Regions from separate parts of the Homo sapiens genome. Here region 2 is reported to be linked to region 1. The links are microRNA targets in miRTarBase. Many come from high-throughput screens and were not tested one by one. Region 1 holds a microRNA gene; the other region holds the end of a gene's coding sequence.
What was found. Region 1 holds the annotated microRNA hsa-miR-1269b (CUGGACUGAGCCAUGCUACUGG, at 3,693-3,714, opposite strand). A microRNA usually pairs through its seed, bases 2 to 8, with sites in the 3' UTR of a target mRNA and lowers its output. Matches are read on the target gene's strand: a 7mer-m8 pairs with bases 2 to 8, a 7mer-A1 pairs with bases 2 to 7 and ends in A, and an 8mer does both.

Region 2: miRTarBase lists SPANXN5 as a target of hsa-miR-1269b. Seed matches in the 3' UTR shown: 8mer at 4,758-4,765.

What each region holds. Positions count from the first base shown.
Region 1 is chr17:12,913,621-12,918,696 of GRCh38, forward strand. It overlaps MIR1269B (microRNA 1269b), which reads right to left and starts at 3,722; the gene lies at 3,648-3,722. ARHGAP44 (Rho GTPase activating protein 44) reads left to right here. Exons shown (of 21, transcript NM_014859.6): 5 at 2,280-2,391.
Region 2 is chrX:52,791,707-52,796,774 of GRCh38, forward strand. SPANXN5 (SPANX family member N5) reads right to left here. Exons shown (of 2, transcript NM_001009616.4): 2 at 4,438-4,925. The coding sequence ends at 4,782. Among named protein-coding and RNA genes, the nearest start is that of SPANXN5, 3.2 kb to the right of the region's middle.

The sequences.
Region 1 (5,076 bases):
AGACACCATTAAGCTGGGTGCAGTGGCTCACGCCTGTAATCCTAACACTTTGGGAGGCCGAGGCAGGTGGATTACCTGGGCTCACGCCTGTAATCCTAACACTTTGGGAGGCCGAGGCAGGTGGATTACCTGAGGTCCAGAGTTCAAGACTAGCCTGGCCAACATGGTGAAACCCTGTCTCTACTAAAAATATAAAAAATTAGCTGGGTGCAGTGGTGCACACCTGTAATCCCAGCCACTCGGGAGGCTGAAGCAAGAGAATTGCTTGCACCCGGGAGGTGGAGTTTGTGGTGAGCCAAGTACGCGTCACTGCACTCCAGCCTGGGTGATAGAGTGAGATTTTGTCTCAAAAAAAAAAAAAAAAAAAAAAGGCACCATTAAAGACATACAAAGATAAAAGCACACCTGGGCACTGACATTTGTAGCAGATAGGAAAAAGAGTGAAAATCTGCCTTCACACACGTGTGTATATGAAGTTCCTACAAATAAATTCAAATAAATAGATCCTAATACAAAAATAGCCAAGGAATATGAACAGGCACTTCATGGGAGAGGGATATTAAGTCTTACTAGCAGTCAAGGAATGTAAATTAAAACCAGAAGGAGATAATAATTTGTATCCACCAGTTTAACAGAAATTAAGACACCTACCAGGACCAAGGGTTGGCAAGGGCATAGGGCAATGGGAACTCCCATTTGTGCTAGTGAAATTTCCAAACATGCACAAAGAGACTGCACAAGCATATTTACTGAAGCGCTGCATGTAATAGCCAAAAACTCTTGTTTGTGGGACAGCTTAACATAATGGTGGTATATTCAAAGAACGAAATTCTCCATTGCAAAATGATCTGATTCCGCATGTACCAACATGGGTAAGCTCCAGACATAATGATAGAGTAAAAAAGCAAGGCTGCCTGTAGTCCCAGCACTTTGGGAGGCCGAGGTGGGTGGATCACCTGAGGTCAGGAGTTCGAGACCAGTCTGGCCAACATGGTGAAACCCCATGTCTACTAAAAATACAAAAAATTAGCCGGGTGTGGTGGCAGCCTCCTGTAATCCCAGCTACTCAGGAGGCTGAGGCAGGAGAATGGCTTGAACCCAGGAGGCGGAGGTTGCAGTGAGCCAAGATCGTGCCACTGTACTCCAGCCTAGGCAACAAGAGTGAAACTCCATCTCAAGAAAAAAAAAAAAAAACCTCAAAAAAAAAATCCAAACAAAAAAAGCAAGTAGCATCAGGATATGCTCAGTATAAAACCATGCATGTAGACTGAACTAAGCAAAGCAGCAGTATTATATATTGTATGGGGACACATACATGTAGAGTAAAAATGTGAAAATCTGAACAGGAAAGGAATATCCTCACAGTAAAAAGGCAGTTACCTCTGCTCATACGTTTGTTGACTTGTAAAAGCTTTTTTGTTTGTTTATGTGTTTTTGAGACAGGGTCTCGCTCTGTCACCCCGGCTGGAGTGCAGTGGCACTATCTAGGCTCACTACAGCCTCTGCCTCCCAGGTACAAGTGATTCTCGTGCCTCAGCCTCCAGAGAAGCTGGGTCTACAGGCATGTACCACCATGCCCAGCTGAGTTTGATATTTTTAGTAGAGGCGGGGTTTCACCATGTTGCCCAGGCTGGTTTGTAATAACTTTTTACTTGAGTTTTAGTTAAAATGGGTACCAGACAATGGGAGAATGGCCTGTGTACAATTTGGGTAGAATTTAACATCTTTGAAATAGTATATTGTGTCATCTGGGAAGATGGCATGACTTTCTACTCATTCAGGTCTTCTGTCGTTTGCTCATTATTAATCAACTTTTGGATTTTTTTTCATTGGATAATTGTCTATATATCCATGTACTAATTACATTTTCGTGGCTTAGGAGTCAGGGCTTTCTTTCTATCAGGACCTATTGAAATTGAGCTTTTGCTTTGTATTTGAAGATGATGTTTTTTTAGCGGGCAGATTTTAGCTATCCAATGTTCTCCTCAGAGATAGAAGCATGTGTTTATAGGCATGTGTGTCTGTTTTCTCTCTCATGTTTCCCCACATTTCCCCTTGTGCCCCAGGCACACAATGAGTGGCACCTTTTGGAAGAATTGATTATTTCAGAAATGCAGAGAGCTGGAACAGGTTGGCCCAGGGGAAGCCATGGAGATCAGCCAGCTTATTAACACTGACTTGTGAAAGTTTACAAGTGAGCCAGGAGGTGAGGGGAGGGTAACGCCAGTGAAATGTTGTCTTCAAGAGTATTCACTATTTCTTTCCCCCTTGGATTACAGGAAGATGCTGAAACTCTGTGGAGAGACGGAGGACAAGCTGGCTCAGGAGCTGATACATTTTGAGTTGCAAGTAGAGAGAGACGTGATTGAGCCCCTGTTTTTGCTGGCGGAGGTAAGCAGCAGGAGTGAGGCCAGGCCTGAAAGAGCAAGGAGGTACCGAACAGGAGCCCCTCAATCATTCTGTTTCCAGCATTCTACTTCTTTCCCTTAACCTTCTCCCCAACATTGTTTTTCATCAGGGATTCTTACCTAACCACATGGTCAAGATTCCCAAATATGTCCTTTTAGCATTTGCTACCCCTTCTCCTACCCATTCTCTTCCCTGCAGGCATTCCTAGAAGTAAGGTGGAAAGCTGGCAGCTTACCCGCTTCCCCACCCACAGCCTCGACTGCCTTCATCCCCACCTTCCACCCATCTCAAGTCTTCAGTGCTGTGAACAGCAGCCACTCCTTACTAGGATTCTGGGGGCCCAGGCCTCCTGCAGTTTTATGTTTTTTTTTTGAGATGGAGTCTTGCTCTGTCACCCAGGCTGGAGTGCAGTGGTACGATCATGGTTCACTGCAACCTCCGCCTCCCAGGTTCAAGTGATTCTCCTGTCTCAAGCCTCCCAAGTAGCTGGGATTATAGGCACCCACCACCATGCCCATTTAATTATTATATTTTTAGTAGAGACGGGGTTTCACCATGTTGGCCAGGCTGGTCTCGAACTCCTGACCTCAGGCGATCCACCCGCCTTGGCCTCCCAAAGTGCTGGGATTATAGGCGTGAGCCATCGTGCCCAGCTGCAGTGTATGTTTATATGGGTCCCTTGTCTTTGGACTTTAAAGGACACTCAATTAAACTATTTTATTAAAAAGCAACCTTAATGCCTATGTGAAAACTTTGCTAGCTTCAGCCAAGTGAAAGCTTCTCACGGGAGATAGGAAATGCTTGGGGAGCTTTGAACCCTGAATCCCTCTCAGTTGTTTTTAATTCGTCATCTGTTAATAGATTGAGCATCTCAAACCTGAAACAATCCGAAATCTGAAATATTTTGAGCACCAACATGATTCTTAAAGGAAATGCTCATTAGAGCATTTTGGATTTCACATATTCGGATTTGAGATGCTCAACCGGTAAATATGATGCAAATATTCCAAAATCCCAAAAACTCCCAATCCCAAATATTTCTGGTCCCAAGCATTTCAGATAAGGGACACTCCATCTATATAAAATCTAACCAGCACTATCCCCTAGAACTCTGTATTAGTCAGGGTTCTCCAGAGAGAGAGAACCAACAGGATATATGAGAGGGGTTTCTCCCCTATTAGGGGAAGTTGGGATTCTCCCCTATTAGGGGAAGTTGGCTCACATAATCACAGAGGGGGAGAGGTCCCATGATAAGCCATCTGTAAGCTGGAGAACCAGAGAAGCCAGTAGCATGGCTCAGTCCAGAAACCTCAGAACCCGAAACTCAGTCCAGGAACCTCAGAAGCTGATCGTGCAGCCCCGAATATGAGGTGGAAAGCCAGAGAGACCCCCATTAAATGTCAAAGAACCTGGAGTCTGATGAGGGGAAAAGGCATCTCACTACGGGAGGGAGGGAGAGAGAGAGCAGAGAGAGAATCCTCCTTCTTCCACCTGTGTGTTTCAGCTAATTGGATGGTACCGCTCCATTGTGGGTGGGTCTTTCTCCCAGCCTGCTGACTCACACATTGGTCTCTTTTGGAAACACCCTCTCAGCTACACCCGGAAAAATACGTCACTAGCCTTTGAGGCATCCATCAGTCCAGCCAAGTTGACACCTAAAATTAACCCTCGCAGACTCCCTACAATGATGGAAATATTCTCAATCTGTGCCGTTTGATAGCCACTGCCCTTAAGTGGTTTTTGAGCACCAGTGCGATTCAGGAACTCAATTTTTTAGTTTCTTTAATTTTCGTTAATTTAAATTTAGAATTTCATAGCTACGTGCGGTTAGAGGCTACTGTATTAAACTGCCTTGCCCTAGACCCTGTCTGGCTTCCTCTCTGAACCACAACGAGCACCTCCACATCCCCTGACACTCTCTCTGGGACAGAGGTATGGGCCGGTAATTACTTATGGACCTGAAACTATTCAAGGAGAAAATCGTGGATGAAGTTCTTTGGGATTGACCAGCTCTCAGCTTCTCAAGTCATCTCCTCGCTTGGAGCATTCACGAGGTCCCCTCTGTGCCTCAAAAGGAGGGTCCCGGGTCTGGCCAAAGCCTAAAGCAAACCAAGGAGCAAGTCCGTTGTGGGTGCTGACAGTCACTTGGCTCAAGCAAGATACCCAGTGGCCCTCCAGCTTAGCTTCGGAGCTGGGTGGTGACTCAGGTTGCCTGGGGACAGTTACACTTCTCCTTCCTACTGGAAGTTGTTACACGCAGAACATTACTCATCCCTGCTCGGGAGAGTGAATAGAAAGCACTTCAGAGAACATTGGATTCTCCTCGAATTTTTTCCTTATATAAAAACCGCAGCCCGAGATGATTTTAGTTCAATTTTCGGCCAATTTTCGTTTTGCATTCTCACATCCTGCCCTACTTTTGCTGGGCCCGGAACCAAAATCCTGCACTGGGATGTTCAGTGAAGCCATTTTTAGAATGAAAAAATATAAAAAGAGCATCTACATACAACCAAAATGGAAGAACTCGTAGCCGAGAAAAGCCATGATGGCAATGTTTATTCATTATTGACTGGAAAAGTCTTACTTTATTTCTATAAATATAAACATTTGCTTCCTTTCTTTTTATAAATATAGAATCTGTATCCTAGATGCAGCCATAGCCTCTCC
Region 2 (5,068 bases), not on the chromosome of region 1:
GTAGGGAGGGCAGGCAGTCGTGGTCACAGCAGGGACAGTGGGAGACAGAGATATGCAGGGTGGGCAGAAGAGGGGCAGGCAAAGAAGCAGGGGAGACCCAAGGCCAAGTGTGGGCTGTCACAGCCACCAGAGGGAGAGGATGCCAGGAAGGAGGTTGTGGGGCTCCAGGAGCAAGAGGTTCCCCAGATCTGTGAGCATGCCCTGCCTGGCACTGCAGGAAGAGGTGGCTGCCACCCAGGTCAGTGTGGACGTACCTCTACCTGTGTCTCAGAGGAAACAAATTCGATTTTATCCCAATATAGTTCTGTATTACCCAAATGTAACATTCGGCTACTAGATATTGAATACCGTATCCTCCATGCAAATAGAGGAGAGCATACCCTAAAAAAGATAATGAAGGATTTGATTTTTCTTTCTCCCTGGGACGATGGGATCCATAAGTTGGTTCCCCAAGCCCACAAGACAGATACAAGGAAGGGTGGCTGGAAGATTGTGAGTTATGACAGGCAACATTTTTCCTTAGGTTCCATGGGTATATAAAGCTCCGGACTATCTGTCTATCATGGATAGATAAAGAGTGAACATGGTCCCCTCTCCACAAATGTGTTTCTCTCCTTGTGAAGGGCTGAAGTTACACCAAGTTCTGATACGTTACATTTGTGTGTGTGTGTGTGTGTGTGTGTGTGTGTGTGTTGTTGTTGTTGTTGTTGTTGTTGTTGTTTTCTTTCTTTCTTTTTTTTCTTTTTTGACATGATCACACTCTGTCGCCCAGGCTGGAGTGCGGTGATGCAAGTACAGCTCACTGCAGCCTGGATCTCCCAGGCTCAAGGGATTCTCCCACTTCAGCTTCCGATCTAGTTGGGACTACAGGCACACGCCACCACACCCAGCTAGTTTTTTATTTTTGGTAGAGACAGCATCCACTATGTTGCCCAGGCTGGTCTCGATCTCCTGGCCTCAGGCAATCCTCCTGCCTCAGCCTCCCAAAGTGCTGGGATGACAAGTGTGAGCCACCTCGCCAGGCCTTCACTTTCTTTAATGAACAATTATCAGAGTTTCATCTTAGAGGCAAAAGTGGCTACTGCCAGCCAATCTGAGGATGGTGTTGGAGGGGACTCTGGCCGATTCAGATGTTTCTAATGAACTTTTAAATTAACCTACCTGATGATTATCCTAAGGCCCTTTCCAGCTCCGTGTTTTTTTGATTCAGGGTTTGGAGTTTTTCAGAGGCTTTGTTACAAAGATCATCTCCTGGGCAGGCACGGTGTCCCATGCTGTAATGTCAGCACTTTGGGAGGCCGAGGCAGGCAGATCACTTGAGGTCAGGAGTTGGAGACTAGCCTGGCCAACAGGGTGAAACCCCCGTCTCTACTAAAAATACAAAAATCAGCTGGCCGTGGTGGCAGGCCTCTGTGAATTCCAGTTACAGTGGGGAGTGAAGCAGGAGAATCCCTTGAACCTGGGAGATAGAGTGTGCAGTGAGCTGAGATCACGCCACTGCACTCCAGCCTGGGCGACGGAGTAAGTCTTTGTCTCAAACAGCATCTCTCGTCTACAGTGATGCTCTTGTCTCCTTGGGTTTCTCTACCAGTCTGATCACATCTACTCTATCTCCCAGGAATGCCTCAATATTTCTGGTGAACCACTGACACGTTTTCTTATTTTCCTCTACTCTTGAGAATTGACCCTTGAAAACATTTTCTTCCCAGTTCAATGGAATGTTGAGTGGGGCACGGGATCTATCTGCCATCTTGCTCCAATCATCTGGTTTTAGATATTTTATGTATATTTGTCACTATATAAGTGTAATTTTTCTCAATTTGGTTTTCTAAATCGTTAATATTGGTATGTAGAAAAAACCTATCTATATATATATAATATTTTGTTACCTGTCTGGGTGCAGCTTCCCCTGCATTTTGGCACAAGACTCAATATGTTTTATTCTCCAAAAGGAAAGTGACAGGCTGGGCGCGGTGGCTCACGCCAGTAATCCCAGCACTTTAGGAGACTGAGGCGGGTGGATCACCTGAGGTCAGGGGTTCAAGACCAGCCTGGCCAAGATGGTGAACCCCTTTCTCTACTAAAAATACAATAAAATAAAAAAAATTAGCAAGGCATTGGTGGTGCGCACCTGTAGTCCCAGCTACTAGGGCAGCTGAGGCGGGAGGATCATTTGAACTCGGGAGGCGGAGATTGCAGTGAGTCGAGATCGCACCACTGCACTCCAGCCCGGGCAACAGAGACTCTATCTCTAAATAAAAAAGATAAAGAAAAAAAGAAAATTCACTTCACAGGCAATAGAGAGTTATAAAAGGATACTTTATGGATGATTTCATAGGGGAGAATGATGGAAAGAAAGGATATAAACATATATATATATATAACAGAGCTGAGCAATTCACTGGAACAATCACCAGAACTGCCTTTTTCTCCAAAAATAGTACCCCTAAGCTATACTACTACTGGTTCTTCTAGTCCTTCCCTCTATTCCACATCCTCAAATTGTCCATTTTCTTATTGGGATAATTTTCCTCTGCCCAGATCTGGGTCCTCCACAACACTTAACACTGTCTTCGAGTGTTTGAATGCCCATTGCTTTAGCTCAGATTCCCAAGGAAACAGGCTTTGGGCCATACAGGACACCTCTAGACAGACTATACTGAGAAACAATGCCTGGAATGGTACATGGGGAGAGGAGAGGAGAGGAGAGGGAATTACGTACCTGACTCTCACTCCTGGTTCCTTTTCTTATTGGTCAAAATTTACCCCACAGGTGCGAACTCCCCTACACTTCTAGATTGCATCAACTGCCCCTTTGACAGCTGTCTAGGAAGCCAGATCCCACACTTTGAAGTGTAGTGTTTCATACAATCCAAAAGTGGTAGCAGAGGCCAGGCGTGGTGGCTCACGCCTGTAATCCCAGCACTGTGGGAGGCCAAGGCAGGCGGATCATGAGGTCAGGAGATCGAGACCATCCTGGCCAGCATGGTGAAACCCCGTCTCTACTAAAAATACAGAAATTAGCTGGGCATGATGGTGCACGCCTGTAATCCCAGCTACTCGGGAGGCTGAGGAAGGAGAATCGCTGGACCCTGGGCGGCAGAGGTTGCAATGAGCTGAGATTGCACCATTGCACTCCAGCCTGGGCAACAGAGGGCGATTCCACCTCAAAAACAAACAAACAAAAACAAAACAAAAAATAAAAAGTGGTAGCAGAAATCAGAAAGTCCAGATATGTAGGTAATTGGCCTTGTTGTACAGCAGCAGCCAAGGGTGAACACTAAATGCTCCCAGGCAAGTCCTAAGTTCATCGAGTAACTGGAGTACCCATCTGTGTTAGTTAATTGCCTTTATCTGAAGGAAAAATAAAACTCATATCTCTATGACAAGCAGGTGCTTACGGCTTGGAGCAAGGCACCTAAGTTAAACTCCCCTGGTGACAGGGAGACAAAGACATCATCTTCCTCAACGTTCACCTTTCAAAGAGATGCTCCATGGCCCTGAAGAAAGACATTCCTGGTGGCGGTGTTTGGTAGCTCACACCTGTAATCCCAACACTTTGGGAGGCTGAGGCTGGAGGATCACTTGAGGCCTGGAGTTCAAGTTCAAGACATTCCTGGGTTATAGGGTGGCCAGAGGCTTACATATCAAAGGAAGAATTTATAAATACAAATTTTCTCAAGGAAATGCTCTAAGGAAAGTGAAATGGGGAAGGTCTCTTCTTGCTCTTTTGGCAACAGGAAAATCTCAATTTTATGTTTAGTTACCCTTACAATTTCCCCCTTTTGTTATTCTTTTATAGTAACAGTACAATTTTCTAGTTATCTCCACTGCTTTGAAATGAGGCTCATTGGCACTGGAGAAGCTGGTTCATTCACACAGTCAGCTTCACATTCCCTCTTTTGATCAAGATCTTTCTTTGAAAACCTCACAAACCTGAGGTGATCCACCCACCTCAGCCTCCCAAACTGCTGGGATTACAGGCGCAAGCCACTGTGCCCGGCCCTATAACCAATGTTTTTAATTGTATCCCTCTAGAGAGAGTGAGCAGAGGTGTCTGTGTATGTCTGTATTGTGCTTTGTGTTTTACAGAACATTAACTCTTTATAAAGCATATATTTCTAACCTAGGAAAATATCAAATGGAAAAGGGATGGGAATACCTTTGATATGTACATTCAGCAGAACTATGTGCTGCCGGGTACAGTTGCATGAACATATACACATCTCCACTTCCTGTGGGAGGAAATTTTAAGAAGAAAATTTTCTTTAGGAATCAGTGCTCCCCCAGGCCTTATTTACAATGTCTGGCTTACTGTCAACCTGTGAGTCTGTCCACCAACCCTACAGGACCTCATATCCCTCCCTTCTCAAATGCCTACCTCTTCCCTTCCCTTCTCCCCCACCATCAGAAAACAGGCATAGATATATGCAGCCATCAGCTTCTCAAACTTGATTTTATTGTAATCATCACCGTTGGTGGTGAGGATTTGTCCAATTTGGTTTCTCCATGTTTAATTAGTCTTCCTCACCCTCCTCTGACGATCCTTCAGATGAGTCTGGGTCTTCTTCCTCCATCAAAGATCCTTCAGATGAGTCTAGGTCTTCATCCTCTTGTGAAGATCCTTCAGATAACCCTAGGTCTTCATCCTCCTGTGAAGATCCTTCAGGTAATTGTAGGTCTTCATCCTGCTTTGAAGATTCTGCAGATGAGTCTAGGTCTTCGTCCTCCTGTGAGGATCCTTCGTCCTCCTCCTCTTGGACTGGATTGATGGAGTTCTCTCAGGACTGGTCATTCTCGAGTTGATTTGAATGTATTTTCTTAGTCTTCCTGTAGCACAACACTAATACTGTTGAATATTCTGATGTTTTCATCTTTTTCAAACTCGGTTCGAGGACTAAGTCCCTGTTTGGTGTCTCCTGCATCTGTTAAGAAAACAGGGAGAGGCCAGAAAGACATTATTTTGGGTGAATAGGATAGAGACTGGATAGCAAGGGGGGCTTTATGAGAAGGAATGCAGGTTGAGGAAGGGGTTCGATCCAGAGAAGAACAAGGTTGACTCACAGGG